Regions from separate parts of the Homo sapiens genome. Here all the other regions are linked to region 1. The links come from fine-mapping of genetic effects on gene expression. A gene starts in region 1. Each other region holds a variant in brackets. All regions are shown on one strand. Distances are from middle to middle.

Region 1 (6,316 bases):
TAAATTCTCTTTTGATTATTTCTAGTTTTATTGCATTATGACCCAGAAATGTGTACAATTTTTGTTCTTGTATACTCACTAAGGATTCTTCTTGTTTTCAGAGTAGGACCAAAGGTATTTCTATTTGTTTGCAAGTCTGTTGGCTCAGTTTCTAAAGAGTTCATTTTGTTACCATGTTCTTTTAAGTATATACATACAGGTTAGTTACGTTTCCAGTTTCCTGTGCTTTTTATTTTTTTTTTAAACAAGCTTTTCTGGCCCTTCATTCTCTCAGACTTTTCCTTCCATGCCTTATGCTGTAGATAAAGTCTATGATCTAACGTCTGTCAGTTAAGATTGTTTTCAGCTCTGGAGACCAGAAAATCTGACCCACATAGCAAGAACAAGCAAGGGCAGGAGATGAGGCTGAAGAGGCAGGCACCAGGTTGTCTGAGCTTTTATTCTACTGCAATGAGTAGATAGTGGCAGGGTTTACACAGGGGTGGGGGTATGCCTATATCATGTTTTAACATTTTCAAGAGATCACTCTGGATGCTTGAGTGGAGGCTGGACTGTAGCAGGGCAAGACAAGATGCAGGGAGGTTGGAGGATTCTTGGCAGTAGCCCAGTAGGAGAGGAAGGTGACTGAAACTGGTTGTGGAAATGGAGATGGTGAATCAGGATGCTGGTTGCACTCAAGAGCCACAGGACTTGCTGTGTGGTTGCATGGGGGTTGGGGGAGAAGGGAAAAGAGTCAGGGATGACTCTTGGTGCTCCCCTCAGGGAAGAGGCCCCAAGCCTAGTGGTTATCAACAGATGGATGGTATTTAAAGCTATGAGACTGTGTGGGATCATTCTGAGAGGATCACTAGAGATCTGGTGGAGGAGGAGCAGGAGGATGAGGATAAAGGTGAGAGGGAATCCAGGAGGGAAGGTCCCTAAAATCCAGAAGAAAGGGTGGAACTCCTCAATTGTATCGTCTGTGTCAAATGCAGCTAAATGACTGAGATAAAAGTCGTTTCAGCAAAGTACCTTGGAGGAAAGCTGGAAAGGAGTGGGTGCAAGAGAGGACATGAGGTGAGGAAGTTGCATGGAGCAGAGAAACAGAATGGTAAATGGAGAGAAACCTGGGGTTAAAAAAGGTCTATTTGTTTAATGCACAGCATTAAGGAATGCTTGTGTGTGGACACTAGCAAAAAATCAGTACAGAGAACCCCAGAATTCTGGGGTCATAGCCCGAAAGGACTCCTCAGCTCCAAATTTACTTGAAGTTACAGCTTCCATCTTTAAATTAAATGGGATTTTTTTTTTTTTTGCCATCTATTTCATCATACAGGATGTGACACAGAATATATCTGAAAGTATAACTTTCCTGGAAGAACACATCTTAGTTTTTAATATCTAAACTGTATAGCAGCTATTTATCTCACAAAACATTTTTCAGGCTGAGTGCGGTTGGTGACTCACGCCTGTGATTCCAGCACTTTGGGAGGCCAAGGCAGGAAAATTGCTTGAGTCTAGAAGTTCGAGGCCAGCCTGGGCAATGTGGGGAGATGTAGTTTCTACAAAAAATTTAGAAATTAACAGGCATGGTGGCACAAACCTGTGGTCTCAGCTACTGGGGAGGCTGAAGCAGGTGGATCGCTGGAACCCCTTTCGTGGTGCAGTTTGGGCAAAAGAGCAAGAACCTGTCTCAAATTTTTTGGCTGATGGTTGTAGACATAATGTTTGAGCTTTCAAAAATTACAACATTTTAAACTAAATAGTTTGCTGGAAAAAACCACATGTTCCTTCCAGAAACAACTGGTAGACCATCAGGATCATGACAGTCACTTCAAAAAGCTTTGGTGTGTTGACAAAGGGGAGGTTCACGTGTGATGTTGCTGGTCGCACAGCTACTGCATCCAAGGCAAATGCATGTTAACAACCATATCAAATGTGGGTGACCAAGTGGCAACATTTAAGCATTTTACATCCTAACTTATGTGCAACTTAAACCTACTGCCACACTGTGAGTTAGGAAATTGGTAGGTTTTTTTCTATTGACTTGTTGTGCCCTATAATTTTTCCTATTTAAAATAATGGGAAACAAGTTTTCAGTTTTTTTCTCAGAAAAAGTCTGACATTTCAGGCACAGATATGTCTGACAGTTATTACCAGCAGAAGAGTTTCTAGCCTTTTCATCGTAAAATTTTAATTACTTACCTTGGAAATTACTTAACTTCGTTCCTTCCAAATCTGGTAGTAAAATGGGTGCTCCAGAAAGCTGTGGCACGGATATTCTGCTGCTTTGCTCGTCTCTGCACAGACCTGGGGCTTGAGGAGCCTGCAGCCACGAAGTACAGGACGTCATCAGAATGGAAAAGCGATCCAGATGGTCCCGCAGGCGCAGTGCTGGGGCGTAAAGTGCAGCCTGTGCACGGCGGGTGGGAGGCGCGCGGGCTCGCCGGGGCTCGGGACTGTGTTCTTGCAGCCGAGAGGCCCACACAGGACAAGGAGGCCTGACCCAGGCTGTTGGAGCCCGCGAAGAGGGGGTGAAACTCCAAGGGGCGTAAGGGTGATCACACGTGCGGCCAAGCTTCCCGTCTGCATGGCGAGGGGCTGGGCCTTTCCGTCGTGATTTTTCTCCCATTATGCCGGGCGCGTAGCGGGCCCTGGGGCGGCGGGACCGGTGCGGGCGTTCAGTCAGCCCGGGGTCCTGGAGGCCGGCGGGGGGATTCGCAGCAGCCCGAGGGACGGATGGATGGCAGAAAGGAGTCTCTACTTCCAGGTTCCCAGTGATCGCTATGTTCCTTACAAGCAGTAAACTCACGACTTCAGACACCCGCCACGGAGCTCCGCGCGCAGTCCTCAAACAGCCAGCCACGCCGGCCGGGCGCACAGCGCATGCCCCGGGGTCGGGGCGGGGCGGAGGAGACGGGGCGGGGCGGAGGGGACGGGGCGGGGCGGAGGGGACGAGGCGGAGCCGGGCGGGGTTGAGGGGACGGGGCGGGGCTTGGCGGGGGCGGAGCCGCCCAGCGCTGAATCCAAATCGTATCTAAGCTATTTTCTAGCTCTGACATCGTATACATCACTGCATACGTGAATAGCATGCCAAATACTGTATAAACCAATACTGGTTTTTTTCTTCTCGGGAGGTACTATATAAATAAAGCACGTACACGGTATCTAATATCAGAACATTCAAATCCCATATTGAAAAGATTATAAATTGACCATAATCCTATAATTCTGTTTAGCAACAGTGCGTTCCTTCTCAGTCTTCACTTTTAAAATATCTAAGAGGCTCGATGTCTTGAGGCTTTTTCTTTTTAAACCCAACATCCTTTTTCACATTTATTAGTTTAGTACTTTGGTTTTACTCAATAAAAAGGTGGGGTTAAAAAAATCTGAATTATTCTGCAATGTTTCAGGCAACAGAGGCTGAAAACAACACTGTTAAGGCGGGGGGACAATTCTTATACTCTGTGAGTCTTCTTGTTTAATTTTCATTAAATTTCCAGAATAATAAGCGTAGGATAGCTAACGTTTGTCTTTGCGTCGTAGATTAGTTAACCTTTACTGAATTCACAATATGGCATCAGAGATTTAATCTGCATTTCCTAATTCTTATAAATTAAAGCTGAAGTTTAAGCTTCATTCGCACGTCACAAATACCACTTGCCCTGAATAAATAATGTTTTTAGAAGTGAGCATTCCTGATCTCCCTGTTTGTTAAGAATTGTCTTCTTTTTTCAGCTGCTACTCTGCTAAGACAAGAGTTAGCCCCTGAGCTATGTTATCAGTTCAAGGCTTTGCAGATAGCGCTGTATCGTGGGGGAAAAATGAACATGGTTTTCAAAAAGGAGGAGAACATTTCTATAACGTTGAGACTTTTAGTAATCAGGGCTATTGATGTCAGATGGCTGTTGGGACAAATGACATCATAAAAAATACAAAATTTAAAATTATGTTTGTTTATGTTTGTTTGTTTTCAGATTTCTTAGTAGTAAAGGGGCTGTGTTTTCACTCAGGCTTATATGATGATGACATTTCTCAGACCAGCAGCTATCTGCTAGCATTCTGTCCTGGACTTGGGGTGCACCTGTGACAGTAGCTGGGCTTGTCATCCAGTGAATAGCTCATAGTTGACTCCTCTCCATCAGTATAAGCATGGGTGTGGGTGACTGCATGGTAGAGGGGGCCGGGGTAGCCAGGGACCAGAGGTTAGTGAACCATTGGGTAAGATGTATAACTGTTACTCAGGCTCATAATTTTTCAACTTTTTCAGATAGTAATAACAAGAAAGTCCATCCTTACCAGTGTCAGTCTCTGTTTTAAGTGTTGTTCATATATTACCTCATTTAATTATCACACCAACCCTATGAGACTCAGAATGTAAATAGGCTACTGAGGTCACATTGCTGGTGGATCTTAATCTCAGGCCAGCTTGGCTCCTAAGTGTGTGTTCTCACTCTATTGCCTCTAGAACAGGAAGGAATATATGGATACTGTAAATTGTTAAAGAACAAGTTGAAAGAATTTTATTTCCGGCAACATGGGCTGACAAGAACCAGAAAACAACAAAAACTTCTGGAATACATATCAAGAACCATTTTAAAAAATGTATCAATGAGCTGCAAAATAATTAAGAGTTCGCAAAGGCAAAAAAATTAAAATTAAAAAGTGAAAGTAGAAACCCAAAGAAGTAATTAGATGCCATTTTTCACCCTTAAGATAGTTGCCAAGTGTCATACTGAAACTCTCTTTTCATAGTCTGGGAAGAGGATGGGGCAGCAGAATAGCAGACAAAGTTTAGATCCTGTCCAAGGTAGGACGGTTAGCAGAAGACATCAAAAGTAGGACACCAGCCGGGCGCGGTGGCTCAAGCCTGTAATCGCAGCACTTTGGGAGGCTGAGGCGGGCGGATCACGAATTCAGGAGATCGAGACTACCCTGGCTAACACGGTGAAACCCCATCTCTACTAAAAATACAACAATTAGCCGGGCGTAGTGGCGGGCGCCTGTAGTCCCAGCTACTCGGGAGGCTGAGGCAGGAGAATGGCGTGAACCCGGGAGGTGGAGGTTGCAGTGAGCCGAGATTGCGCCACTGCACTCCAGCCTGGGCGACAGAGCCAGACTCTGTCTCAAAAAAAAAAAAAAAAAAAAAAAAAAAAAAAGTAGGACACCAAAAAGATAGGTTTAGTGTAGGAGGGAACTATGAATCAACCTGTCTGCCTCCCCTGTCTCCTGCCCCCTCAATCCCTGCAGCCCCTGGAGCAGCAGACAAGATTATCCATCCTGAGGGAAAACATCCCTCCTGAGAGTGAGGATACATTAATATATAACCATGGGCAGCCCTTCCACTGGTGGCTTCACACACAAACTGTATAATCTAAAAAGTCTCAAGCTGCAAATTTAAAGTGACATCAGGTTTTTAATGCCTTCCAGGTGCCTGGCAAAAGCAAAATGGAAGACAGCTTCATGGAATGTAAGTTTTTAATCAAAAATCACAAACATTTATAATGGGCAAGAGCCAGCAGAAACAATGTACAGAGGAGAAAACCTACAGAGACTTAAGATATTAGAGTCACCAAACATCACATAAAGTGTGTCTTACATGTAAAGAAACAAGGGGATTAAAGAGCATGAGTATGAAAATAACCAAGTAGATTGGGAAAAATTACCAAATAGAAATCTAGATTTGAAAAATACCATAATTGAAATGGAAAGTTTAATGGATTAGTGTCACAGCCAACTAGATACTACCAAAAAGAGAATAATGGATATGAAGAAATAAAGACATTTTTAGACTTGTAAAGACTTAAGACTTTCTTACCTGGAGACCTGCACCACAAGAAAAATTAAAGGATGTCTTTTAGGCCTTAAGAAGGATACCATATTGAAATCTAGATCTGCACAAAGGAATGAAGAACACTGGAAATAGTAACAACATGGACAAATATATGATTTGTTATTATTACTTAAGCCTCTTTAAAATATAATTGTTTAAACAAAAATAATAAAGTACTATGGAATTTACAACATGTAAAATAAAATGGATGACAGTCATAGCTTAAAGACTAGGAGGGAAGAAGTATACTGATGTAAGTTTCTTATACTAAAATGATATATTATCACTTGAAGGTAGACTGTGATCAGTTGAAGACATGCACTATAAACACTAAAGCAACCACTAAAATAACAAGCCAAAGAATTGTAGCTGTTCAGGATAACACAAACAATCTCATCAAAAAGTGGACTAAGGACATGAATAGACAATTCTCAAAAGAAGATATACTAATGGCCAACAAACATATGAAAAAAATGCTCAACTTCACTAATTATCAGAGAAATG
Region 2 (6,316 bases), 27 kb before region 1:
CTCACCCGCTTGGGATGGCCTCAGCTCCCAGGCTGCAGCCACCACTGCCATTTCAAAGGTGAGAAGGAACTGTCTGTGTGGGCCTCTCATCCCGCAAAGTGAGGGAGGCGGGAGCTGGGTGGTGCAGGGAATTAGGAAAGGCAAACCTGGGACGTGCTGTGCCCTGCAGTGCAGTTTCCAGAGGGGAGCAGCCCGGGGTGGCAGACGTTTGCATTTGGATGTTAGAAATGCTCTTCCTGGCTGGGCATAGTGGCTCATGCCTGTAATCCCAGCACTTTGGGAGGCCAAGGCAGGCAGATCATGAGGTCAGGAGAGCGAGACAATCCTGGCTAACATGGTGAAACGCCATCTCTACTAAAAATAAAAAAAATTAGCCAGACGTGGTGGCGGGCACCTGTAGTCCCAGCTACTCGGGAGGCTGAGGCAGGAGAATGGCGTGAACCCAGGAGGTGGAGCTTGCAGTGAGCTGAGATCGCGCCACTGCACTCCAGCCTGGGTGACAGAGCGAGACTCCGTCTCAAAAAAAAAAAAAAGACAAATGCTCTTCCTGACTTTTCAGAGCTGACTGAAGCCCCCGTTTCTTGGCCTGTGTCTTTTCCTTGCCTTGGGGTCCACATTAACCAACTATATTCAATCAACAAGCTTAACACTGAGAATCAAGAGAAGCCCAGGATCTGGGGAGCCCGGGACCCCCTTCATCATCCACTGTGCTTGGGATGGGGCTCCTCTTGTTCTCCTGCCCCAAAGGAGCTGGCACACCAAGCGATGCTTCCAATTGTCCACTGCCTTTATGGGAAGGGACAGCGGTCTCTCCTTGGTGCCAGTGTTAGAAGGAAGAATTGATGCTCACTCGGTCCTGCTGTGTGTGGGAGTCTCCTCTGCACCCCACCCTATCTTGTCACTCGTCACCACTGGGTTGAGCAATACCAGACTTTGTTTCCAGGCTTTGTTTCCTGGCCCTTGACAATAAACAGAACAGTGTCCCTCAGCCTTTCACACCACATAGACCCCTCAGGATGAGGGGCTGCTCAAGCAGCTCCCACTGATGCTGGGCCTTGGGAAGAGGGGGCCAGTGGGGAGGGCCCTCCCCTGAGCTGAGAGGTCCCTTTATAAAGGCAAGTCCAAGCCCCAGAGATTTGGGGGTCAGCAGGGGAGAGAGCAGGGCTGAAGGCGTAGAGGGGGCACCCTGCACTTTATACCTGGGGCAATGCAACAACAAAGGTGCCAGGTATGTGGACACACACCTAGAGGAAGAGTGCTGTGCACCCTCAAAGCCTGGTCTGAGGATCAGCAAACCAGCCCCTCTGGGAAGGTTGTTGGAAAGGCCAACTCTCAAGCCCCTCCCCACCCCTGATGCACCAGAACCTTCAGTCTGACCTAGCCCTGGGTGACTCCCCTGCTCCCGAGGTCTGGGACGAGCTGCCTGCAGCACTGGCTCTCAATCTGCCTGATTGTCAGCACCATCTGGAGAGCCAGAGAAATTCTGAAAAGACAGATCTCTGGGCGCTTCCATCCCTGGGATTGTGACTCAGTAAGTAAGGGGTGAAGCACAATAATTCATATCTATGTTTTTAAAGCTCCTCCAGCATTCTGGATGCTTAGCCAGCCTGGGGACCCTCTCTCTGCTCTTCGGGTATCTTACAGGTAAGAAAGATGTCATTGTAAGCTTTTACCCTTGGAAACACATTCATTCCAAACATATCAAAAGAACTTATTAGGCCGTGTGTGGTGGCTTATGCCTGTAATCCCAGAGCTTTGGGAGGCCCAGGTGGGCGGATCGCTTGAGCCCAGGAATTTGAGAACAGCCTGGACCTCCTTGACTTCTGGGGAGTTTATGAGGGACCTGGACACTGTCAGAGTGGTTTTTTGTTTCCCTTTGTGTACAGTTTTGAGTTCATTGTTTATGTATTAGGGTTTGGAATAGGATCATATAAATATTTCAGGTCCTAAAATAGCTGTGACAGTGTCACTAATCTGCCCCTGAGCTGAACATCCACCCCTCCGCCGCCATTTAATCCTCCAGTCATGTGAGGGAGGATGGGAGTCTGTGTGAACGTCATTCTCACTCGCCTTCAAAGATCATATCTGCCTGTCTCATCTGTCAAGAACGTAGAGTTTGTTGTGATGGTGTATTCAAAATAGACGAAACGTGTGGTCATTGTACTTGGCAAACAGCTTTTCACGTCAGGATGTTTCTGCCCCCGGCTCAGGGCTGGTCCGACTGTGTGAAGAATGTGGCTCAGTGCAGGTGCCCAGTCTGCCACCCTCAGTCCCGCAGCTGCAGTGTTAGAATAACTGTGCTGTGGGCACCCAGCGTTGGTGACATGGGGAATGTGGAATAATGAATACTTAATTCACATGTGCTTATAGAAAAAACTTTATACAATAAAAATAACCAATTGTTATATTTACATCTTTTTCTGTCACTATATATAAAAGGAATCAAGAATTTTCATGCAGCTTCCGGGTATTCTTGAGACTGGTATATCATTTCTTTTTGAAAAGTGCATTATTGCATAACACCACCTAGATAAATATATTTTTATGTATTTATAAGTATATTTTAGCTCAAAAATATCAATAGTATACATAGCTTATAGCACAGTTTGGGAAATGCTGATGTATATGGTAATAATGCGTTGTTTGGGATGATTTAAAATTATATCAGGATATTAGGAGCCCAATATAGTGATCCAGATTGAGATCCTCTTGTCTAGTATTCTTTAAAATGGCAAAACATCAAATCTAGAAAATAGATAAGAAATGAATTTTAAGATAAAAGTACAACAGATTTTCTATTTTTACAAAAATCATTATTGATTTTCAAAAATATATTTTAGAATTCAAGCTGTTAATTTAAAAAGTGCTTATTTCATCATATAACGAACAAAACTGGATATAAGAAAAAACGCCTCGTCTTGCTGTCTCCAAATCTTGCAGCTTTTCAAAGTTTCAGAATTTTGTAAAATATTTTGAATAGCCCAGACTTTCTGAAAATCGGCGTAGCCTTTCAAAGTATTAGAATTGAGAAGCTTTTAAATGCCAATCTTATTTTATAAAGTGTTGACTTTTCACTGTAGACTAATAGCGAACAGTTTGTAAAGAAATGTAAATAAAAAATGTAAATAAATAAAATAGGCTTATTAGTTTTCAAAAAATTTATTTAAAAGGAAGGGGCAATGTTGATTGGAGTGAGGAAGTATTTGAAAATGTATTTTGTGAAAGAAATCAACGCACA[C/T]GCACACACACATGCCTCAAAAGCGAAACTCCAACAATGCAGCTGCTGTTCCTTTGCAGCAATATTTATCTCACCTTGAGTGAGTGAGGGCCATGCTGCTTGGAAGCGTAATAACTTAAACACCTTGCCTATGTCTAGGGATTAAAAACTAAGCTCTACTCAGCTCATGTAATGCCCCTGACCTCCACCAGAGAGAGATTCTTGGTTATTCCTTGTGGGCAAATATGTCCATGGATCAGTGGATCAGGGACTGTTGAATCAGATATGTCTCCCTCTCTACATGTCACGGTTTGTAGAGATCAAAAATTTCCCTGAAAACACCCAGGTTTATGAAGCCAGGTGATCAGCCAGTTCTGAGGCCTAACTAGGGAGGCCAGAATCCTGCTTGCAGGACAGGGCTGGGTTGGGGATGTCTGTGGTGATGTCATCTCCAGCTGTGAGCTCCAGGGCAATGCTGTCTGGGATGAAGGTCTGGGGCACCCTGAGCTCCTGGAGAAACGGGTGCAGTTAAGAGCTCTATGAAGATTGTATGTGGTGGCAACGCTGCTGGGATACCCCGTGGGTAGCCTAGAGAAGAAGTACTGTGTCCCATTGCAGGTGAAGGTGAATTAAGGCAGAGAGGCTATTGAAATAGGCACTGAACAGAACATGATAGCCGAATCTATAACAGCAAAATATTTACCAGTTGTTGATTGGATGGGGTCAGTAAGTTCCATAATACTGGGTGTTGGGTATGGGGTCTTAATGAAAGGATTACAATGTTAAGGTTGTAGTAATCCACTGTGAAGCACCATTTATTTTTTTCCAGGCTTAAGCACAGGCAAGACTGAGCTGTCAAATGGAGAAGCAGTAGAGAGAATCACCCTTTTATTAATTAGGTTTTATATATTAAGTTTTAAACTTGAAGGTCCTGTACATCTGAATTGTGTCTCTCCCAAAATTACATACTGAAGCCCTTACCCCAGTACCTCAGAATGTGCCTGAATTTACAGATACAGCCTTTAAAGGGAGTGGTTAAGTTAAAGTGAGACCATTAAGGTGGGCCCTAATCCAACATGACAGGTGTCGCTATAAAAGAAGAAATCTGGAGACATAAAGAGACCTCAGTGCTGGGTGTGCTCATAGGAAAGGTCATCCCAGGTCGGGAGAGAGGCCTCAGAGAAACCAAATACCCCGCACCTTGGTCTTGGAATTCCAGCCTCCAGAACAGTGAGAAAATAAATTTCTATTGTTAAAGTCACCCAGTGTCTGGTAGCCCTAGCAGACTAACACATCTTGCTATAACTTACGTAGAGTCATATTAACTATTTTAACTGGGGACCTGCAAGGTCCAATTTACCTCATAATTATAGCAATATTAACTATTTTTACTGGGGACCTCCAAGGTCCAAGCCAATTTGTAGGTGCCAAAGACTTAATTGAATCATACATATTACTCATTGTGTTAGAGCATGTTTTAGGGCAATGAGTATTATGCTTATGAGAAATTTAGGCAAAGCTACAGTTAAAATAAAGCATGGCTATTTTTCCTCTATAGTTATTTTGCCAGGATCACAGGCATTGCAGTGTTTAAATTTAGTGAGATTCCCAGGTATAACTGTAATTTGAGTCCCAGCATTGACTAAGTTCATGAAGCTTTGTCAATTGGTGCATTTGTTAATCTGGAGCCCATGCTGCACAGGCACAAAAGCCAATCACGGCCCCTTTTATCTCTTTGTTATATAAATCCTTATAGTAAATTTTGTGTTTCCAATTGGGTCAAGTTATGGACCTTTGTTTTATTACATATTTATGTTACTGGGAAGGGGCACTGTTCCAGACCCCAAGAGAGAATTCTTGGATCTCGTGCAAGAAAGAATTCGAGGCAAATCCATAAAGTGAAAGCAAGTTTATTAGAGAAAGTAAAGGAATAAAACAATGGCGACTCCAGTGGCCAAGCACGGTGGCTCATACCTGTAATCCCAGCACTTTGGGAGGCTGAGGAGGCAGGCGGATCACCTGAAGTTGGGAGTTTGAGACCAGCCTGATCAACATGGAGAAACCCCGTCTCTACCAAAAATATTAAAATTAGCTGGGTGTGGTGGCAGGCACCTGTATTCCCAGCTACTCAGGAGTCTGAGGCAGGAGAAGCACTTGAACCCAGGAGATGGAGGCTGCAGTGAGCTGAGATCGCACCATTGCACTCCAGCCTGGGCAACAAGAGTGAAACTCTGTCTCAATAATAATAATAACAATAATAATAAAAGAATGGCCACTCCATAGGCAGAGCAGTGGAATGGGGTGCTCAACTGCTTGTACTTATTGTTACTTTTTGCTTATATACCAAACAAGGGGTGTATTATCCATGAGTTTTCCAGGAAAGGTGTGGGCAATTCCTGGAATTGAGTGTTCCTCCCCCTTTTAGACGGTATAGGATAACTTCCTGACGTTGCCATGGCATTCATAAACTCTCATGGTGCTGGTGAGAGTGTCTTTTAGCATGCTAATGCATCATAATTAGCGTGTAATGAGCAATGAGGACAACCAGATGCCACTTTCATCACCATCTTGGTTGTGGCTGGCTTCTTTACCGCAACCTGTTTTATCAGCAAGGTCTTTGTGACCTGTATCTTGTGCTGACCTCCTATCTCATCCTGTGACTTAGAACGCCTACTTTCCTGGGAACGCAGCCCAGTAGGCCTCAGCCTTATTCAAGATTCTCCAGGCTTGAGGGTGGAGCCTTATTTACCCAGCCCCTATTCAAGATGGAGTTGCTCTGGTTCAAAAACCTCTGGCATTTATATTAAAATATGTAGAATATATGAAACATTACATGCAGGTAATTTTTAATATTCACTTTATTTTCATCCCTGGTGTCTAGGCCTGCCCTCTCCCCCATTTCTGGGCTTCTGGCTGCCCGAAGCCGAGGTTTTGAGTTACTGTCTCTGGCTGACAACTCAAAGTGTGGACCTTCTAGGGGCTTGTAGGAGGCAGGGTGTGGGGTGGGGATCACAGGCAGCCCAGCCTCTTTCCCAGGCTCTCCAATCCCCTCTAAGGGGGTGGGATTTGCCCTTGGAACCTAGACGCCCCCTTTCCGGC
Region 3 (6,316 bases), 47 kb after region 1:
ACTCCAGAGAAGGGGTAGATGCCAATAATGAAATGGAAAGAGTAACAAGGTTAGAAAAAGGAAATTAATAACTAGAGTGATCAATAACCAGAGGAAAAAACCCACAAGGTAAACCAATAAATGTAAAATAAGCCAGAAGAAATAAAATCAACTACAGTAGATCAATTGTATAATGAAATGTAAACAGATGAATTCCCATTAAAAGACAAAGGTCAGCTTGGGTTTAAAAATACAGTGATAACTGGGCAATATGGTGAGATCCCCGTCTCTCCAAAAGAAAAAAAAATACAAAAAATTAGCTGGGTGTAATGGTGCATGCCTGTAGTCCCAGCTACTGTAGAGGCTGAGGTGGGGGGATCACCTCAAACTAGAAGGTCAATGCTGAAGCAAGCTGTGATGTTGCCACTGCACTCCAGCCAGGGCAACAGAACAAGACCCTGTCTCAATCAACACCACCACCAACAAAAAAACCCAGTGATGTATATATACAAGAAAAACACTTAAACAATGATAATGGTGGAAAATAAAAGAATGCCAAGAGATACCAGGAAAGTGCAAAAGCTAAAGTAAAATAAAGAGTGGCCATAATAATAATAGAAGGGTGAAATTTAAGGTTAAGCACTGAAATGGGATAAAGAGGGACACCATGTAATGATAGGCACAATTCGTAATGAGAGAACACTCGAAATCTGCATGCTCCCAACAGCATCACAGTAAATACAAAAAGCAAAATCTAGTAAAAGATGAGATTTATAGAGAAAATTTATAGAGAAAATTATAGAGAACACTCAAAATCTGCATGCTCCCCACAGCATCATAGTAAATACAAAAAGCAAAAACTAGTAAAAGAAGAGATTTATAGACAAAATTTGAGTGGAAGGCTAAATCTCTGTTAGAACTACAGTAAAAGCCTCCTCCCCCAAAGGATACAAAAGAAGTGACAGTTTGAATAACCAAAAACTTGATTTGGTATATATGGGACCTTATATCCCTTAAATAGAAAATATATATTTTTTCTATGTCTATGAAAATCTTAGAAAAATCATTTGGCCACAAAGAAATTCATAATAAATTTTAAAAGTGGAGAGTTTACAAATTTGGAGAAAATGAATGCTTTCCTAGTAAAATATAAAGTGCCCCTAATGAACTAGATAATGAGTAGAAACTTAATTACCACTGACGAGAAAAAAATCTGCCACTGAAAAAAGCACCAGGTCCAGACGGTTTCATGAGAAGGAACTGTAGAATCCTTTAGAATTCACCTCCGTCAACACCTTCCTCCTCTGGGAAGCACTCCTGGATTTCCCTCTTGCTGACAAGATCCTGGGAGAGTGGCTTCTCCATCATGTCCCTGACACAGCTTCTTGAAGATGTACCATATCATATCATAACCATATGATATCATATCTGCATACCACATCCTAACTGGATTTGATGGCCAATATGTCCTGGAAAATAAGCTACCTGAGTGTAGGAATCACACTTTTTTATTGGTTTCTAGTGCCTGGTACAGTACAGCAGCTGACACTGGCTGACTAGGTGAATACGGTAAGTGAAAAAGCAGAATGCACAATCATCAGTACTCTGCGATGCCCTTATGGGAAATCCCCAAGACACACACATAGGAAGGAGAATAAATGAAAAGAAACCAAAATGCTAACAGTAATCAGATTGAGATTTCCCCCATTATCCAAATATTTATGATGTAGTTAAACAATTTTTATAGGGTGAATAGTAATTTATACAACCACCTGGGCCAAGGAGTAGAAGAGGAGGAGGAAGGCTCAGAGGATCTTCAGGCAGGCCCTTCTGCTACCTCGGCTTCCTTTCTCCGGCCAGGTGGTCCAGCCGCCAGGCAGACATGAAGGCCCTGACAGGGGCCTCTGCCCCACCACCTTCATGCCTCATAGGGGACCTCTAGCTAGGAGGAAGGTGATGAGACAGGGTAGGCACCCACCAGGAGCCTAAGCTGGACAGAAGGGTCCCGTGGGTCTTACCTGGCCCAGGCAGCAGCTCTGGAAATTCTATCAACACTAGATTCCTCCAAACAGAGCCTCCTAAATTTTAGCAAGAGCTCCTATGCCCTTCAGCCCCAGGGCCTTAGTCCTGTCAGCCCCATTTCCCCCTCAATATAAACCAACAGCCACTGTCCCCTCACTCTGTGGCCCAGATCCAGCTCTGAGTCTCCCTAGCTTTCGGGCATGGAGCCCCAACTGCATTCCTGGTGATCAGCTACTCCTGGTCATGACCATGGACTTTCCTATGTCCCGGAGCCTGGCACTGACCATCCATCTAGGCTGGCATTCCATACTAATGCCCACCCCTCCCTCTACTGGACACAGTCAGCTCTAGGAAGGGGAGAGAAAATCCATCTAGAATGAGGGCAACTGCTGTGGCTGGGGAAAGATGCGACAGGGCAGATGAGCTTGTCCTGGTGCCCATCTCAGGCCCCTGCAGGCTGCAGGGAGCCAGGGACTAAGAGGTGAATAACAGGTGCAGCCTTCAGGGAGATCCCCAGAGGACCATGGGGGCTGAAGGGAAGGGAGGGGTGGATGGAGAGAGCTCTTGGTGGACAGGAATGTGAAGTGAAGATGGAGGGAGACCCAAGAACCTGCTCTCTCAGAGGTCAGACACTAGACAGGCAGCAGGGCTTCTGGGTCAGCCTGGGTCTGCAGGTGAGTCAGGGGAGGGAAAGGTTGGGCCAGGCGTAATCCAGCTGAACCACCCAGGGTGGCTTCTCCAGCTTGGGGGTGGGGGAGTTGTTGTAGGAGGGAGCACAGGCAAGGGGACTCACTGGAGTCCCCTCAACTTGGCTTCAGCTTCCTGCTGATACCAGCTTCCCTTTCCAAAGGCCCCCAGCTGGCCCCGGAGTAGAACAGATGGGTCTGTCCTGAAGTCAGTTTCTTTCTCTCAATCACAGTGACTTTGGGCTGCCCTTGGAGTTTGACCTAGGAAGTGGGTGCAGGGCCTGGATCCAGAGAGGAAGGGTCACTGGATGGATTATAGGATGGGGGAAGGGGAGGACCAGGTGGAAGTTCAGGAGGGAGGGGAGAGAGTGAGGAAACTGCTGTGGCCCTCTCCTGGTCCTTCATGGGTGAGGGCTCACTCACAGTTCCCAGAAGAGGAGGAGGAACAAGGGGTCCCAGCTCCTTCCAGTCCAGGCTGCCAGCTCAGATGTGGGGCCTCCAGAGCTGTTCGTATAAGAAGTTGCAGCAGCCAGGCTCCACTGGCCTGGGCTTTCTCCTTTTGAGGCGGGATTGATGACTGCACCCTGAAATCCCCGAGTCAGGACTGCAGCAGTGGAGAGGAGGCTCAGAGGCCCCTTTATTCTCCGGGCTTTTGCCTGGCTTCCCTGGGATTCCTGAGTGGCCTCCTTTGAGGGAGGGGAAGAGTTGTCCCTGCTTACCTTCCCCTTGCCACCCTCTCTCTCCTTCAAGAGGGCTTGCTTTCTGCCCTCTCCTAGGGAGCCAGGAAACAGGAGACATCCCTCTCCTGGGACATCAAATTCTCCAACTACACCCTCAGCTGCAGATGGCAAGGTCACGATTTGGAATTCATGTCTCCTTCCCTGCTGCCCATGCCCACAACAGGGCTGGGCACACAGAGGATGATCAGAAGAATGAGCATGTGCTTGCCTTTGGCTTGTATTCTTCTTGCCGAGTCTAACAGGGTGGTCAACCCTGATGGCCACCTGGCTGAAACTGAACGTGGTGGCCTG[G/A]GTGGGTTTTATGGGCAGGAGACCTGGAACTGTCCTAGACACAGCCATTTCCTGGCAGCATGACCTTCGGCCAGTCACTAAACCTCTCTGAACATCTGTTTGTACTCAAGGCAAATGGAGGTGTCTATGTCTGCCTTCCAACTTGTTAGAAGCTTAACCCTGGGTGCAAGCCTTTGAGTAAGAGGCCACAGTACTGTTAGCCCCTTTGGGAATGTGTCTTACCATATTTTATGTCCCCTGTGTCCAACACAGTGACCAGTACATACCAAGTACTCAATATGTGAAATTAGAGTGCATGGTGAATGACAAGACTGCGCCATACATGGCAGGAGCTCCTCTCTTCTAGGGGTCTGTGGGCTTGCCCAGTAACCTGCCCTAAGCCATGAGCCGATGCCCAACAGACAGGTGTCCCCACTCTCCAATGACCCTGTGTCACTGCCACCCTCACATCGTTGCCCCCTCTGTTCTGCTCCACCTCTCCTTTCTTAAGAGATCCCTTCTCAGCAATGATCTCCTGCCCATCCACCTAAATTTGGGGATATTTCCATCTATGACCCTACACCCCCTCTATCCACACCATCTCTCTCCCCTTCTGCCTGTTGTCTACACTCTCGATCTGCATCCTCACCTTCACTCCTGACCCACTGTCCTCTGCCTTCAGCAACACCCTTGACCAGCTGGCCTTCTGGTGGCCACATTGGATAAGTGTACTATGGCCTTTATCTAACTTGACCTTTCTGTAGCCCCCTTCTTCTGGACACTTCTTGCCCTTTGGGCCAGCACTCTTGTGCTTCTCTTCCTTGATCTGTGCCTGCTTCTTCCTCTCAGGCTTCTCTTTTCCTCCCTTTGTCTGGCATCTACCTTCAGGCAGGCCCGGTGTTTCCTCCATCCTACTCTTCCTCAATTCATCTCCCCTCAGTAAATAGCACCACTGTCTGCCCATGAGTGCAAACTGGGAAGCTAGAACTCGGTCTGATTTCCCTTAGATGCCCCTCGACCACCAGACCCTGCCTACTCTACTTCTCAAACCTCCGGTCATTGCCACGTGCCCATGGTACCACCAAGGACCTTAGCCATTCTTGCAGCCCTGGCCATGGAGATTTTTTTTCTCAATCTCATTCCCTTCTCTGCTAAAAGCCTTACAATGGCCACAGGAAGGCATGCACATTCCTGGCAAGGGCCCATGAGACCATGCCCAGGTGGGCACTAGCTACTTGCAACTCCCTACTCCACTCTTGAACCCGACCCACATGTCCTCTCCTGCTGGCCTCTCATCTAAGAGGGTGAGACCCCCAGGACCATGGCTGTGTCTTAGTTCTCTCTAGATGCAAAAGCTTACCTGGGTCTTGGCAGGTGTTCAATTAGTTCATGCCTAATGATTGGGTGAACGGACCTGGAGGATCATAGTGGGGAAAGGGGATAGAGAGGGCTGGCTTTTCCTGAACCCTCTGAGGAGATAACAGGCAGGCTTACCTTTCAGGATATTCCTTCCCAAAATGCTGCTGGAAAATATAAGATCGGGGTGGAGGTCCAACTAACTCCCAACACTGGACCTTGTTGGGGATGGAGTGTCAGGGAGGCCCACAGCTGACTCCTGAATAAAACACAGTCACAGGGACTGTGGTATTATTGTACCCATCACTTAGTGGGGGGGAGGGGAAACAGGACCAGACATGCTGAATGACTTGTGGAGGTCACACAGTAAATTAGGGACACAATTGGGGTCAGGAAGCAGCCTCTTTGGCCAATGTCCTAGTTCCTTCCTGCAAAAGTCCCTGGCCCCATCACCTGCACCCCTCCCGCACAGGCCACTGCAACCATGAACCTGCTGGGAGCCAGAGGAGAGATGGGCAGAGGCACTATCCAACAGGGACCCTGGTACTGGGATGTCTTCTCAGAAGATGCTGGGACCTGGGATGTTGGCCCTTGGGCAGACCTGCAGAGCACTGGCTCATAGGTAAAGGGCTGCCACTCCTCCACCCTCCTCAACACACACTCTGTGCACTCTGTCTGAGCCAGACCCTGGGCCAGAAGTGAGGTTCAAAGGGCATGGCCATTTCCCAACCTCCAGGGGCACCTTTCAGAGGGGCAGACACTCCCACCATCACCAGGACAGAGAATGTGGAGAGGTCTGGAAGTTTGCCACCACGAGCCTGTGCACGAAACAGAGGGGTGCCAGGACAAGAGCACTGGCATCCAGCCACCCATCCCAGAGATGCTGCCTGGTCGACTGGCAGGGGCTCCAGACAGGGACCCTCCTAGTCCCCATGCCCTCCTGCCAGGTGCTGTTTTCCAGCCTGGTCACAAGGTGACGGGCTGCCTCTGCAGGAGCCTGAGGGAAGGTGGCACAGACCTGGAGGGAAGCAGACCGAGGCCTACCCAGACAGTCTGGGTGGACCATCTGCTGCTGCCAAGCACTTCCAAGCCTCTCCTTGCATAAGGCTCACAGCAACCCTAATTGTGTATTGTGCTTACACATAGGGACGTTGGGCCTAGAGGAATTAAGTGGCTGTCAGCAGCTGGCAGGTGACCCAGCGGAGTCAAATTCAAGTTTTCCTAGTCTCAAAACCTGAACTCTGCATTATAATGAGAAGGGTG
Region 4 (6,316 bases), 35 kb before region 1:
AAAACATCCCAAGAAATCATTTCTTTCTAACAAAGAGCAGCCTGAAAGATGGAGCTGCAAACATAGATGAGGAAGCTGGAAGCTTGCAGGGGGGTGGGGGAGGCCTGCAGCTGCACTGATAAAAGGGACTACCTGGCGCCAGGCATGTCCACCATGGGGGGTTCACCTTCCCTAATTATTTTTTGTTGTTGTTAACACATGCACAGTAAGAAAGAAATAAGCAACATGGAGTAGCTACCCACGTGCGTAATAAAAGATTGGTGTGGGGGCGTCCAGAGATTCGTGCCCTATGCAGATGGCACACCTGGTCCTGTTTTTTCGCACCCGATGTAGATCAGACACTGCTCCCCACTAGCTCATCTATAAAAATCTTTGCATTCCACTGTGCATCAGCGACCTATTTTTCCGGGACCCCTCTCTGTAGCAGAGAGCTATTCTCTTTCTTTCACGTATTAAATTTCCACTCTTAACCTCACCCTTTGTGTGTCCTCGCCCTTGATCTCTGTGGCTGTGAGACAATGAACCTTGGGTGTCACCCCAGACAATGAGGCCACTTCACTAGCAGCCGCCTCTGGTGGCTGGCAACCCCATCAGGACTCCTCTTCCCCTTTTCCACCGCAGATTTCCCATTCCTCTCCCTGCCTTTGAGTCTCTGCCAAACATTATTGAGCTGCATGAAAGAACCTTAAATGCATATTACTAACTGAAAGAAACTGATCTGAAAAGGCTGCATACTGTAAGATTCCAACTCTGTCACATTCTGGAAAAGGCACAACCATGGAGACAGTAAGAAGAGCAGTGGTTGGCAGGGGTTGGGGGAGAGAGGGATGAACAGGCAGAGCACAGGGGATTTGCCGGACTGTGAAACTACTCTGTATGATATGACAGTGGTGGATATGGCATTAGACATCTGTTCAAACCCACAGAATGTACTGAGGACTAAACTGACATTTTTTCTCTCTTGCCCAAATTCCTATCTAAGGGGCCTGGGGAGTCATACCCTAGAAACTGACATCTCAACAGATGGGCTTTATTTAACCCTATATATAACACAGCTTTCTTTCCCACCTGACTCTCGTATAACATCATATGACAGATAAAGAAGGAAATAAAAATATTTTACCCCAAAATAGGATTTTTTTTGTGTATTTTGAAATGGCCCTGCAAAGCTGTCTCTTGTGGGGAAAATTTGCATCCGTAAAGAATCTCTATTACCATAACTAGCTCTTTTCCCTTCCAGGCCCTCCCAATCCTCTAGAGATTAGCTGAAAGTCTAGCACCTTTTAAAAGTCTGAATAGGAAATATTGGCCATCTATTGTCTCTAAGGGCGACCTCCATGAGACTTCATCTACATGGTAAGAACCTTGGTCTCCACAACCCCTTATCTTGACCCAGATACTCCTTTGTATTGATTGCAGGTTTTTAGATAATAACTGTTTCAATGAATTGCCAATCAGAAAATCTTTGAATCCACCTATGACCTGGAAGCCTTCCTCCCACCGACCCCCTTCGAGCTGTCCCACCTTTCTGGACTGAAGCAATGTACATCTCACATGTACTGATTAATGACTCATGTCTCCTTAAAGCGTATAAAACCAAACTGTAAAACAACTGCTTTGGGCACATGTTCTCAGGGCCTCTTGAGACTGACTGTACCTTGGGTCACTCACATTTGGCTCAGAATAAATCTCTTCAAATATTTTACAGAGTTTGGCTCTTTTCACTGACAATACAACACCAAGAGTGACCCTAATGTGAACCACAGACTTTGGGTGATAATGATGTGTTGGTGTGGGTTTAGCAGTAGTAACAAATGCGCCCTGCTGATGTGGGACATGGACAGTAGGGCAGGCTGTGCATGTGTGTGTGTGTATGTGTGTGTGTGTGTGTGCGCACGTGAGCACATGCGGGCCGGTGAGGGGTGTATATGAGAGCTCTCTGCACGCTCAGCTCAATTTTGCTGTGTAAGTATAGAAAAAATCTTTCCTCCACCCATCTAAGGTTTATTGCCTTGGCCCCACAAATTTAGACCAATGAAAGCCAGGTTAACAAGAGAAAACAACGCATTTATTAATTCATGCATCGCAAATACACATGGGAGAGCTCAGTGATAAGTAATAACTCAAAAAGGTGGTTAGAACTTGGGCTTATTAGCATCTTAATGAGAGAGCAATGTATTTGTAGAGAAGTGGAAAGACAAAGGAAGGGGACCTTGAGCTTCTTTGGATAACAAGTTGTGGGAAGGTAGATCTATGGGGGAAGCTGACAGATAAGGTTGATTTGGTGTGCTTGTGATGTTGATTTTTCTGGTGCTACCTCTGGGCTGGTAAGAGCCATCCTGCCCTTCTGGTAGATGGGGACAGGGCAGAGAGTTTGTCCTGTGTCTACTTGGTCTCAGTTGTCTTCAGCTCAAAATAATCTTTGTATCAGAGTGGCATATTTTGGGATGGCATACTCTAAGCCCCTTCAGCTGTGAATTCAAAACAACTCTAAAAAGTCAATTAAAAATTGTATTCCTATAACATGGCCCTTGCTGGTGGGGCTCAGGACACACCACCCCAAAATATGACAGTACAAAACCAGATATGTGAACACAAAATATACTTCTTAGGCAAATTTTGATCTTGTTATTCTAAGAAATTGCAGACACAGGAGTAGCTCTGAAAAACTGCCCTTTTGTAAAAGAAATTTATAACTATAAAAGAAATCTACATTAGTGAAGTATCTGTATCAGGAAGAGGGCTGGTTCCAGACAACTTCTATCACCCCAGAGACTTTTCTCTGCAGAACAAGACACCTTTTATTCACCAGACATTGCCTCCCCTCACCCTCCCAGAACTTGTGCCCATCCTCAGCAAGCCCCAAGCCCCTGTTCCTTTCTGTAACTCAGGACACTATCTAAGCTTCATTCATCTGGCCCTTCTCCTAGTCTATAGTTT[G/T]GGGGACTCCTGTGCATATAGATGTAATTAAAGTGGTGTTTCTCCTATTAGCTTTTCTTATGTCAATTTAATTCCTAGCCCAGCCAAAGAACCTAGAAGGGGAAGGGGAAGGGGAAGCCATTTTTCCCTCCACGACCTGCTTTTCAAGATCCCAGTTTGTTGGAACCACTTCAGAGTTAACCCTCTGTAAATACTTGTCAGTCCTCATCTTTTCAGTGTTTTCACCTGACATTCACTCTTTATTGCACTCTTACGTCTCCCAACAGGTTGCTCAAGAAACTCTCCCTTGCTGTGGACACTGCTGACTTCTGTAAAATACATTTACAGGAGGCCATTAGTTTGGACTGAGCTTCTGCACTAGGCCCAACAGACTGAGACGGAGCATGGACCCCTATTAGAGGCCTGCTGGGCCTCCTCCAGCATGGAAACAAAGGAAAATCTTGATTTCCTTCAAGGGAAATTCCAGGTACCTAGCTGGCCTTGAGAAGTAAATGAGCCACCTGATAAGCAAGAAGGGAATAATAGCTTCAAGTAACAGGCACTCAAGTAAGTCAGAGCCACAAGGTGTTTGGTCCCCTATTGAAACTAAAGATTACATCTTAGCATATGTCCATGAATGGTTTTTCAGAAACCCGGACCCACGTCAGATGGAAAATACTGACCATCATCACAGAGACCTCAGATGTCGGGGAGCTGAGGGCTGCACTCTGACGGCTGCTCTTTGTTGTAAATTTCTTTCTCAGGGGCCTGGAGAGAGTCATGCCCACAGGCCAGACCTTAACATTCCTTTCTGCTGACCCCAAGTTTTCGACAAAGCCTGGCTTCCTTAACCAATTGCAATCAAAGAATCCTGAAGCCGCCTATGACCTGTAAGCCCCTTGCTTCAAGAGCTTCCGCCTTTTTGGGCCAAACCAATGTATACCCTCTGCATTGATTTATGGTTTCCCTGTAACTTCTGCTTTCCTGAATTGTTCCCCTGCCTTTAAAATCCCTTGCTTGTAAGCCATCCAGGAGGTTGGGTCTGAAGTGTAAGCTGCCCCATTCTCCTTGCTTGGTGTCCTGCAAGTTAACACCCTCCTTTCTCCTGCTGCAAACCTCCGTGTGGGTGTTTGGTTTTACCACACGGGGCAAGCAGACCCAGGTTCAGTTCAGTAACAAGACCGGACTGGAATGGAGTTCCTTGCGCTAAAGTTCCACTTTTCCAAACCAAAACTAAGTTGTTTATCTGACCTTCTGAGAAGTCAGGACACAGAGAGATAAAAGGCAAATCTCCAACAGGCCAGGTTTAGCCAGAGTGATAAGCAGTCCTTCCCCTCTGCTTTAATGTTTACAAGGAAAGTAACTTTGCAACCAATCTATGCTTTGTTCTTTGCTTCCACTTCAGCCTTTTCTATCCATAAAGCCCATCTCCCCCACTCTGCTTGGAGGAACGCTCAGTCTGTTTTATGGAATGAAGTGTTGCCTGATTCTAGAATAGCAAATAAAGCCAATTAGGATCTTTAAACTAAATCTGTTGTACTTTTGTCTTTTGACAGTTCCATGATGGAAAATCTAATGGCCACTTTCCATTACCACATCCCAGGAGCAGTCCAGGTAAGTGGCTCCTTTTGTTTCTGGGGTCCATCTCGCTCCTGGCTCTTGACGCCGATGCTTCTCCTTCTCCTCCTGCATTTCTTGTGCTCCTCCCCAAGGTTTGCCAGCGCGCTCACAACCCTTGCTTGGGATTTAAAATCTGAAGTGCGTCATAACTCACCCCTGGACTCTGTTATTCTTTTATTGGTATGCCAGAAAAAAAGAACCCCAAGCTCTCTGGGTGACCAAATTGATATTTAAAGCATTAATTATTAACTCTATTCTTACAACCTCCAGATTTTATCTCCACTCAGAATTATATGTACAGCTGCCTAGCTGATTTCCAGACTGAAATGCCTCTTTGACATTACAGATTAAAACTGATCCCACTCTATTGTCCAGGTCATCTTCCTTGACTTGGCTGTGACCCAGACTTACTGTCTAAATAAATGGTGTGACGGCTCACCTAGGGACCCCAATCCAGACTCTAGGAGAGTTTCTTCAGCCTGTATCCCCCCATGTCATGAATAATCCATTACCGAGTCCTGTTCGTTCTTCCTATACATCTCTCCAAAGGCTTCCCTCCATTTCCACAATGACCCCAACTGTTTCACCACTCGCTCCTCAAAGAACCTCTGGATTTGTTTCTAGCTTTTGGCTATGAGGAATAAGCCTGCTGAGAACATTCAGCTCCAGGATTTTGTGTGAATGTAAGTGCTTTAGTGGTGGGGCGGGACCCTGCAGGCCATCCCTGGGTTGGATGATTCTCTAGAGGGACCCAGAGAACTCCACCAAGCTGACCTAAGGCCCTGAAAGTCAAACAGATACCGCATGGCCCAATGCCTGCACCATAGCTCACTTGTTGGAATAAACTGCCTAAGAAAAATGGGGGTACGTGGTTACATTATCAGAGGCATCCCAGGTGGATCCTGGAGACATGGACAGTACCCGTAGTCACGAAGCTGACAGCTGGAAGAAGCCCATCTGGTTCAACCCCTGTCTGGCATATTCCTTCCTTCTCCATCCTCACTTTCTACCCCTCACAGGGACAGAGAATTTACAGCTTACCGAGCCAGGCCATTGCACTTTTGGACAACTCTACTAAATGGATTTTCCTCATGCCATTGCATAACTGCTACCTGCCACCAGAGCCTCAGAAATACATGGTTTTCCATCAAGCACTCATGGAACATGTAACTGTGGGCGCTTCTAGGGCGGTTCATGATGGATCCTCCAAGATCAACTAAATATAAAACAAGCTCCCAGGTAACAGAACCATTTCAGCTGTTAAATAAAATCATCTGTATTAACCTAGTTTAATTATGAGGGACATCTCTCCCAACATAATATATATATATATAATAAATATATACATATATAATATATAATAAATAAATATATATAATAAATATATTATATATATATATATATATATTTTTTTTTTTTGAGACAGGGTCTCACTCTGTCACCCAGGCTGGAGTGCAGTGGTGCCATCACAGCTCACTGCAGCCTCAACCTCCTGGGCTCAAGCAATCCTCCCACCTCAGCTTCCTGAGTAGCTGGGACTATAGATGAATGCCATTATGCCCGGCTAATTTTTTAAAAACTTTTTGTAGAGGCAGGGTTTCGCCATGTTTCCCAGGCTGGTCTCCAACACTAGGGCTCAAGCAATTTGCCTGCCTTGGCCTCCCAAAGTATTGAAATTACAGCATGAGCCACTGTGCCTCCAACATACTCATAATTTTTTTAAAAGAATAGTTGGTATTTGGGGGCTGGGTACAGTGGCTCACACCTGTAATCCCAG
Region 5 (6,316 bases), 11 kb before region 1:
ACATTCAGCAGCATATTAAAATAATTATACACTATGACCAAGTAGAATTTATTCTTGGAATGCAAGGATGGTTGAACATTCAAACGTCACTGCATGAGGAGAATGGAGTGGTAAATCACATGATTATCTCAACTGATGTAGAAAAAGCATCTGACAAAATTTAAACACCCTTCCATGAAAAAACACTCAGCAAATGCAGAGGGGATGGAAGCTACCTCAATATAATAAAGACCATATATGAAAAACGCACACTAACATCATACTTAATGGTGAAAGACTGACAGGTTTTCTACTAAGATAGGAACAGAGGAAGGAGACCTGCTTTCACCACTTCTATTCAAAATGGCTTAGAAGTTCTGGCCAGAACAATTAGGCAAGAAGAATAAACAAATGGCATCCAAACTGAAAAGAAAGAGGTAAAATTATATTTGTTTGCAGATGATATGATCTTAGATGTAGAAAACCCTAAAGATTACACACACACACACACACACACACACACACCTGTTAGAATAAACAAATTCAGCTGAATGGTAGGATACAAAATCAGTGCACAAAAATCAGCTGTGTTTCTAAATACTAATAATGAATAATCTGAAAAGGAAATTAAGAAAATTCTATTTACAATAGCATCAAAAAGAATAAAATACTTAGGAATTAACTAAACCAAGAATGTAAAAATCCCAATGATGTGCTGGGCAAAACAGAAAAATTCATCCTAAAATTCACATAAAATTTCAGGATCCAGAATAGCCCAAACAATCCTGAAAAAGAACAATGTTGGAGGACGCATACTTCCTGATTTCAAAACTTAGTACAAAGCTACAGAAATCAAAACAATGTGGTGCTGGCATAAAGACAGACATATAGATGAACAGAATAGACTAGAGAGCCCCAAAATAAACTCTCACATATATTGCCAAGTGATTCTTGACAACTCAACAACAACAAACAACCCAATTGATTCATCTGTGTTGTATATGTTCTATAATCCTATTTATATGATATTTTAGAAAAGGCAGTATTATAGGGATAGAAAATGATTAGTGGTTGCCAAAGAATGCGGTTGGGGAAGCGGTTGACTACAAAGAGGCGTCAACAATAGAGAATTTTAGAGATGATGAGACAGTTGTGTTACTGTGAACGTGAATGTATAACTCTATACAGTTGTCAAAACTCATGAAACTGTATGTTACAAAGAATGAATTTTATTCTATGTAAATTTAAAAATCAACAAAGATGGTGGGCGGGTCAGATGGAATGCAGTTGGTGACAAATGAATCTTACTGAGTTAAAAATTATGACTAACCCATATTGAAGAGTGTGGGGGAAAAAAGTCTTCACCTAAGTAACCTTTGAAAATACTGTTTTGACTGCATACTGTAAGACTCAAGAACTGCACACAAACATACTGTATTCTGGTTGGCAAATTTGTTTCAGGGTATGGGTGAGCAATTCTGAAATGATTTTCCATGTTAGCAAATATATTTTAGAGAATTAGAGCCCAGTTTCTCTCTGTAGGTGAAAGAGTTATAAATAAACAAAGGGAGAATGCTAGAATAAACCCTAAGGTGCTGGACTGGAGTTAGGAATGTCAGTATGAACCCATGTCTATTTTAATGTATCTGTTTAGATGGACAGATGTAGATAGGTAGATGCTGAGTTTGTATTCATGCATACATGTTTGGAAACATTCACATTTTTCCAAACTATGCTGAGAGGGCCTCGAAGCAGTGATATCCCAGTATTAATGAGCACACCCAGTACCCAGATCCTGGTTTCTAAATACCATTCTCCTATAAAAGAAACCAAGGCTTCTTGGAGAAATGACTAATTCTAGGCCTGCCACGAAAAACACAAGATGAGACTAGAGCAACTTGCAGTGCCAGAAAATAAGAAAGTGCTTTTAAAAAACATAAAAGGGTGGGGACATGTCAAAAGAAGCCAACCTGGAAGAGCTCTCTATGACTCAAGGTGGAACAATGTGAGTGGCAAACAGTTATGACAGCACTAAATTGTAACCAAGAACATAAAATAAATATCCACAAGTCCATACTGATATAGAAAAGATTACATAAATCAGGAAGGAAAGACAAATCTTCCTTGCAGAAGAATTCCAAGTAATAAATGTTGAAGGAGCACAAATAGAAAACTACCACTAGAACACCACAGTAATCATTACTGCAGGAAAGAGTCATCAACGAATGCAAAAATTGTGGATGAAGAAACAGTATGTTTCTGTGGCCTCAAAACATCTCCCTCCAAATATTTATTATATATTTTTCTTTTTTTTCCTCTTAATTTCACCTAAAGATCTATGACTAAAGCAAATATAACACTGTGTTGTGGGGTTTATGACATGTGCAGATGTAAAATTTATGGCAACGACAGCACAAAGGATAGGAGATAAATGGTGCTATTCTGTAGCAAGTTTTTCTATTTTACACTCACTGTAACAGTACAATATTAACTCTAAACTGTGAGAATGTTAATGATGCACACTGTAATCCTTGGAGGAACTGCTAAAAAATGAAAAAATGTGTCACTTCAATGCTAATAAAGGAATACAACAATACAAAAAAGTACTTGTATAAGAATGTTCATAGATCTTTACTATTATGATAGCCCAAAACAGGAAATAACCCAAATATTCATCAACAGAGAAATGTATGAACAAACCATGGTGCATTCATACAACAGAATACTATTCAGCAATACAAAGGGACAAACTACTAAAACACACACTATGGAGGTGTTTCACAAATATTATGCTGAGACTGCTGGACATAAAAATGTATATTTTATGATTTCAAGCAAAATGAACTTACAGTTAAAAAACCCCCACAACAGTACTTTCCTCTGGGGGAGTTAAAAATTGCCTAGGAATGAGCATGAGGGTGTTTTCTGGGGATGATGGAAATATTCCATTCTGAAAAGAGGTGAAGGTTATATGGGTGTATTTATTTTTCAAAGC[T/C]GTACAATTAAGATTTGTGCCTTTCAATGCATGTGTATCTTACCTCACCAAAAAAGAACTAAAAAAAAAAATAAAGTGAGGGGTAGTAGGGAAAGGGCTGAGGTACAGAAGAAACAAAAATGGCACATGATTATTAGCTGTTGAAGCTGGGTCACGGCTCTATTATACAATTTTGTTCATTTTTTATATATTTAAATTTTTCTGTAACGAAAAGACTTGCACAGAAAGACAAAACTGATCTGTAATGTCAGCTGTTAAGACACTGGTACATTTGAAGAGGAGGGAGGCAGAAAGCGCTTGTGGGCCACATGAGTGAGGCTGCTTCTATTTCTTGGTTACCCACGTGTATCAATTTTGTCATAATATATATTGAGCTTAAGTAAATGCTTTATGCACGTATTTCTATATGCATGTTATATATCAACAAAATAGTTAAATACCACATATTTGCACACATAACTTAGTATCTCAGAGTAACAGCAGTGTTTTTTGTTTCAAAGTGGGACACTTCCACTCACAGCATCATCAGATGAACTGTAATATTCTGATGTATCTATTAGTGTCCTAACCCTTGGGTGAGACCCCCTAGGTCTTCCCATTTCTGCCTCAATTTGGTAAGTAGTAAGACTCTTATTTCTGACGATGTGATTTTATTTCCCAGCAAAGTCCTCCCCAAACCAAGGCCACAATAACTAGCACGGTGCTCTGCACATCATATGCACTCAGCACTTGTGAAATTGAGTTGAATCAGAAACAAAACGAGGAGCAGAGGTCAAGTCCTGCAAAAGATAGTAAGTAAGTAAGTAATGTAAATAACGCAATTAAGACTGAAAGGCTACAGCTCGGCAGCAAAGACTTCACATTCGTTTAAGAAACCATTTGCTACTAGTTCATCAAAAGACGTTGGTTTCATGCTGTGGTTCTCAATTCTGGCCACACATTGTAACCAGTTGGAGAGCTTTAAACAGCAAGGATGTCTGGATCCTACCCCAGGGATTCTGATTTCACTGGTCTGTTGCAACTTGGGTTTTGGGAATTTTAAAAGCCCCCTGCCACCCAGGTGATTGTAAGGTGCATCAGGGGTGAGAACCTTAGCTGTGCCTGATTTCCTTGTGTGCTGCGGGGATTTGCCTCATCGCAGCATCTCAGCTTTGCGGGGAGGGGTGGTGGGCAGTCTTAGAAAACAGCTCTGCCCTGTTAAAATCAAAGGACGGCTCAAGACGTGCTCAGCTGCTTGACTAAATTGCAGCAGGAGGAAATGTCTTTTCAGCAGATCTATCTTTACATCACTTGCTTTCAGAGTAAGAGGTTGTTTTGGGCACAGCATTTTGATTTAGTCTGTGTTGAAGACCAGTAATAGCCTACAAATACCAAAATGGGATGAAAAGAATTTCCAAACATGTGAAGTGCTTTATACGTGTTTCTTCATCCTTCCCTGTGTCTACACCCTTTGCAATGCGCTTTTACAGCTGCTCCCATCCAGAGTTAGAATCTGTTTCCCAAGACTTGGATCCAGCTGGCAGTTTTGGGCCCAGTCTCAAAAGGTCTTGAATGCTTCTTCCTTTTCTTTCAGAACCGTGCTATCTCCGTGACAACAAGCCCAAGTTAGCCTGCTAGAGGATGAAACACTTTGCGGAAGAGAACCAAAGTTGCCCAGTCCACAAGCCAACTCACTCTCAACAGCAGAGCTGTCTGGTCACCAGCAGCTGACCCCCTTCTCCCATACACACACATGAAGATTGCTATACCTTATAAAGGTACGGCAGGTTTTATAGGTATAGCAATTAATTTATGGCAGGAGCCTGCCATAAATTGCTGACTTGCTCAATCATGAGCTAAATAAGTTTTGGGATGGCTCATTACACAGTAACAGCTAACTAACACACCCAGAGCTGACAGGATGCCAGGATTAACAACATGCTGACTACAAGTTAGCTGGCACACTATAGGGACCGTCTAGGTACTGAATTCCTTTTCCCCTTATTAGAAGTTGGGTCCCTTGAATTATAAAGAAATGCATGTAGACATGTATGTGCTTAAAACTCACACAGTATCACACAACACAGGAGGAAATAGATGACAGCCTGACCACTAGGGCAAAGGCCAAATAGCAAGGTAAGGCATTTGTCTGGAATCTATTCCCTCCAAATCTAAACTCTGGAGGTCAAGGCTGTGGACAGGACCCACCTCCTGGGACCCCGCTGTCCTCTGATCTCTGGAGGGGAGAATGGCCCCACCAAGCAGCAGATGGGCAGCAGTGGCCTACCTGTGGCCACCTCCTGCTGGCAGCCCCTGCTCTCTCAGGGCACTCTCTCTTCCTTTGGGACTGAGAAGAGATGTGGGTAGGGAGGGGGAGCTCCCTCCCTCCTGGCAGAGAAGTGGGGTTCAGGCCCTTCACCTTCCTGAGTTCAGGGAGTCAGAGCCCTCAGAACATCTGGAATCTGGCTGCTTTGAACTGAGATATGCTAGAAGTGTAAAATATGGAGTGAGTTTTAAAGATTTAGGACAAAGAAATGTAAAACGTTTCATTAGTATTTTTATACTGATCACACATTAAAATGATATTTTGGATACATCGGGTCAAATAAATTATATTATTACAAATCAATTCCATCTGTTTCTCTTTAGTTTCCTTAACCTGGCTAGTAGAAAATTTAAAACTACAGGCAGGCATAGCTCATATTCTGTTTATATTGGACACGGCTGTCTTAAAGGACTGCCTCCTTTCCGAAGCTCAGGCTGCCTCCAGTCATGGTGGAAGGGGAAGTGGAGCAAAGAAGAAAGGAGGTGGGGTGCCACGCGCTTTCACAACAACCAGCTCTCATGTTCCATAGAGCAAGAACTCACTCACTACCACCAGGACAGCACCAAGCCATTCCTGAAGGATCTGTCCCCAAGACCCAAACACCTCTCACTAGGCCCCCCTTTCAACATTGGGAATCAAATTTCTTTCTTTCTTTCTTTTTTTTTTTTGCTAGAGGACAGGAAGGTTATAAAATCTGAAAATTTTAAATAATTTGTCATTTTGTTGTTTCCATTTGTGAACAAAGGACTTAATAAAAAATTTAAGATTTAACATTAAAATAAAATACATTCATTTCAATATCACGCTGGAATTCAACATTGTTTTGCACGGGGGCTGCAGAAACAATGTAGAGCTTCTTCCTCCTCCAGACCCTCACAGCTCAGCAAGCCTCTCAAGGGCTGGTTGCTGGCCACTGCGTTTCCAGTTTTTGTAGGTTCTCTTCCTCCCAGGTGATTAAGGAACAAGGCCAAAGGTGTTTGAAGCTTTCAGAAAACACAGGATTTTTCTTTCTGTGGCTCACCAGCATTTTCATTTCT

Which allele goes with the higher level. Alleles are on the strand shown, and positions count from the first base shown. SD is a standard deviation of normalised expression in the study named. Not every link is listed here.
For the expression in skeletal muscle of the gene that starts at base 2,867 in region 1, allele C in region 2 goes with a higher level than allele T (small effect, 0.11 SD a copy in GTEx).
With allele A in place of G in region 3, the expression in tibial nerve of the gene that starts at base 2,867 in region 1 is lower (small effect, 0.31 SD a copy in GTEx).

Evidence for each region. PIP is the estimated chance that this variant, and not a neighbour inherited with it, causes the effect.
Region 2: its variant is the best candidate, but not a certain one, in a credible set for the expression of LINC02693 in skeletal muscle (GTEx, PIP 0.79).
Region 3: its variant is the best candidate, but not a certain one, in a credible set for the expression of LINC02693 in tibial nerve (GTEx, PIP 0.56).
Region 4: its variant is the best candidate, but not a certain one, in a credible set for the expression of LINC02693 in whole blood (TOPMed, PIP 0.71).
Region 5: its variant is the best candidate, but not a certain one, in a credible set for the expression of LINC02693 in whole blood (TOPMed, PIP 0.58).

Annotation. Positions count from the first base shown.
Region 1 is chr17:21,548,812-21,555,127 of GRCh38, forward strand. It overlaps LINC02693 (long intergenic non-protein coding RNA 2693), which reads right to left and starts at 2,867. Exons shown (of 2, transcript NR_160801.1): 1 at 2,185-2,867. RefSeq lists a silencer at 2,761-2,930.
Region 2 is chr17:21,522,253-21,528,568 of GRCh38, forward strand. It overlaps LINC02693 (long intergenic non-protein coding RNA 2693), which reads right to left. Exons shown (of 2, transcript NR_160801.1): 2 at 6,058-6,316. Among named protein-coding and RNA genes, the nearest start is that of LINC02693, 26 kb to the right of the region's middle. RefSeq lists an enhancer at 26-526. The variant C/T (reference allele first, on the strand shown) is at 3,239.
Region 3 is chr17:21,596,271-21,602,586 of GRCh38, forward strand. No RefSeq gene overlaps it. Among named protein-coding and RNA genes, the nearest start is that of LINC02693, 48 kb to the left of the region's middle. The variant G/A (reference allele first, on the strand shown) is at 3,719.
Region 4 is chr17:21,513,927-21,520,242 of GRCh38, forward strand. LOC105371589 (a long non-coding RNA gene) reads left to right here. Exons shown (of 4, transcript XR_934332.3): 1 at 1-3,486; 2 at 4,476-4,533; 3 at 5,559-5,778. Among named protein-coding and RNA genes, the nearest start is that of LINC02693, 35 kb to the right of the region's middle. The variant G/T (reference allele first, on the strand shown) is at 2,941.
Region 5 is chr17:21,537,438-21,543,753 of GRCh38, forward strand. All of the region lies in intron 1 of LINC02693 (long intergenic non-protein coding RNA 2693), which reads right to left. Among named protein-coding and RNA genes, the nearest start is that of LINC02693, 11 kb to the right of the region's middle. The variant T/C (reference allele first, on the strand shown) is at 2,975.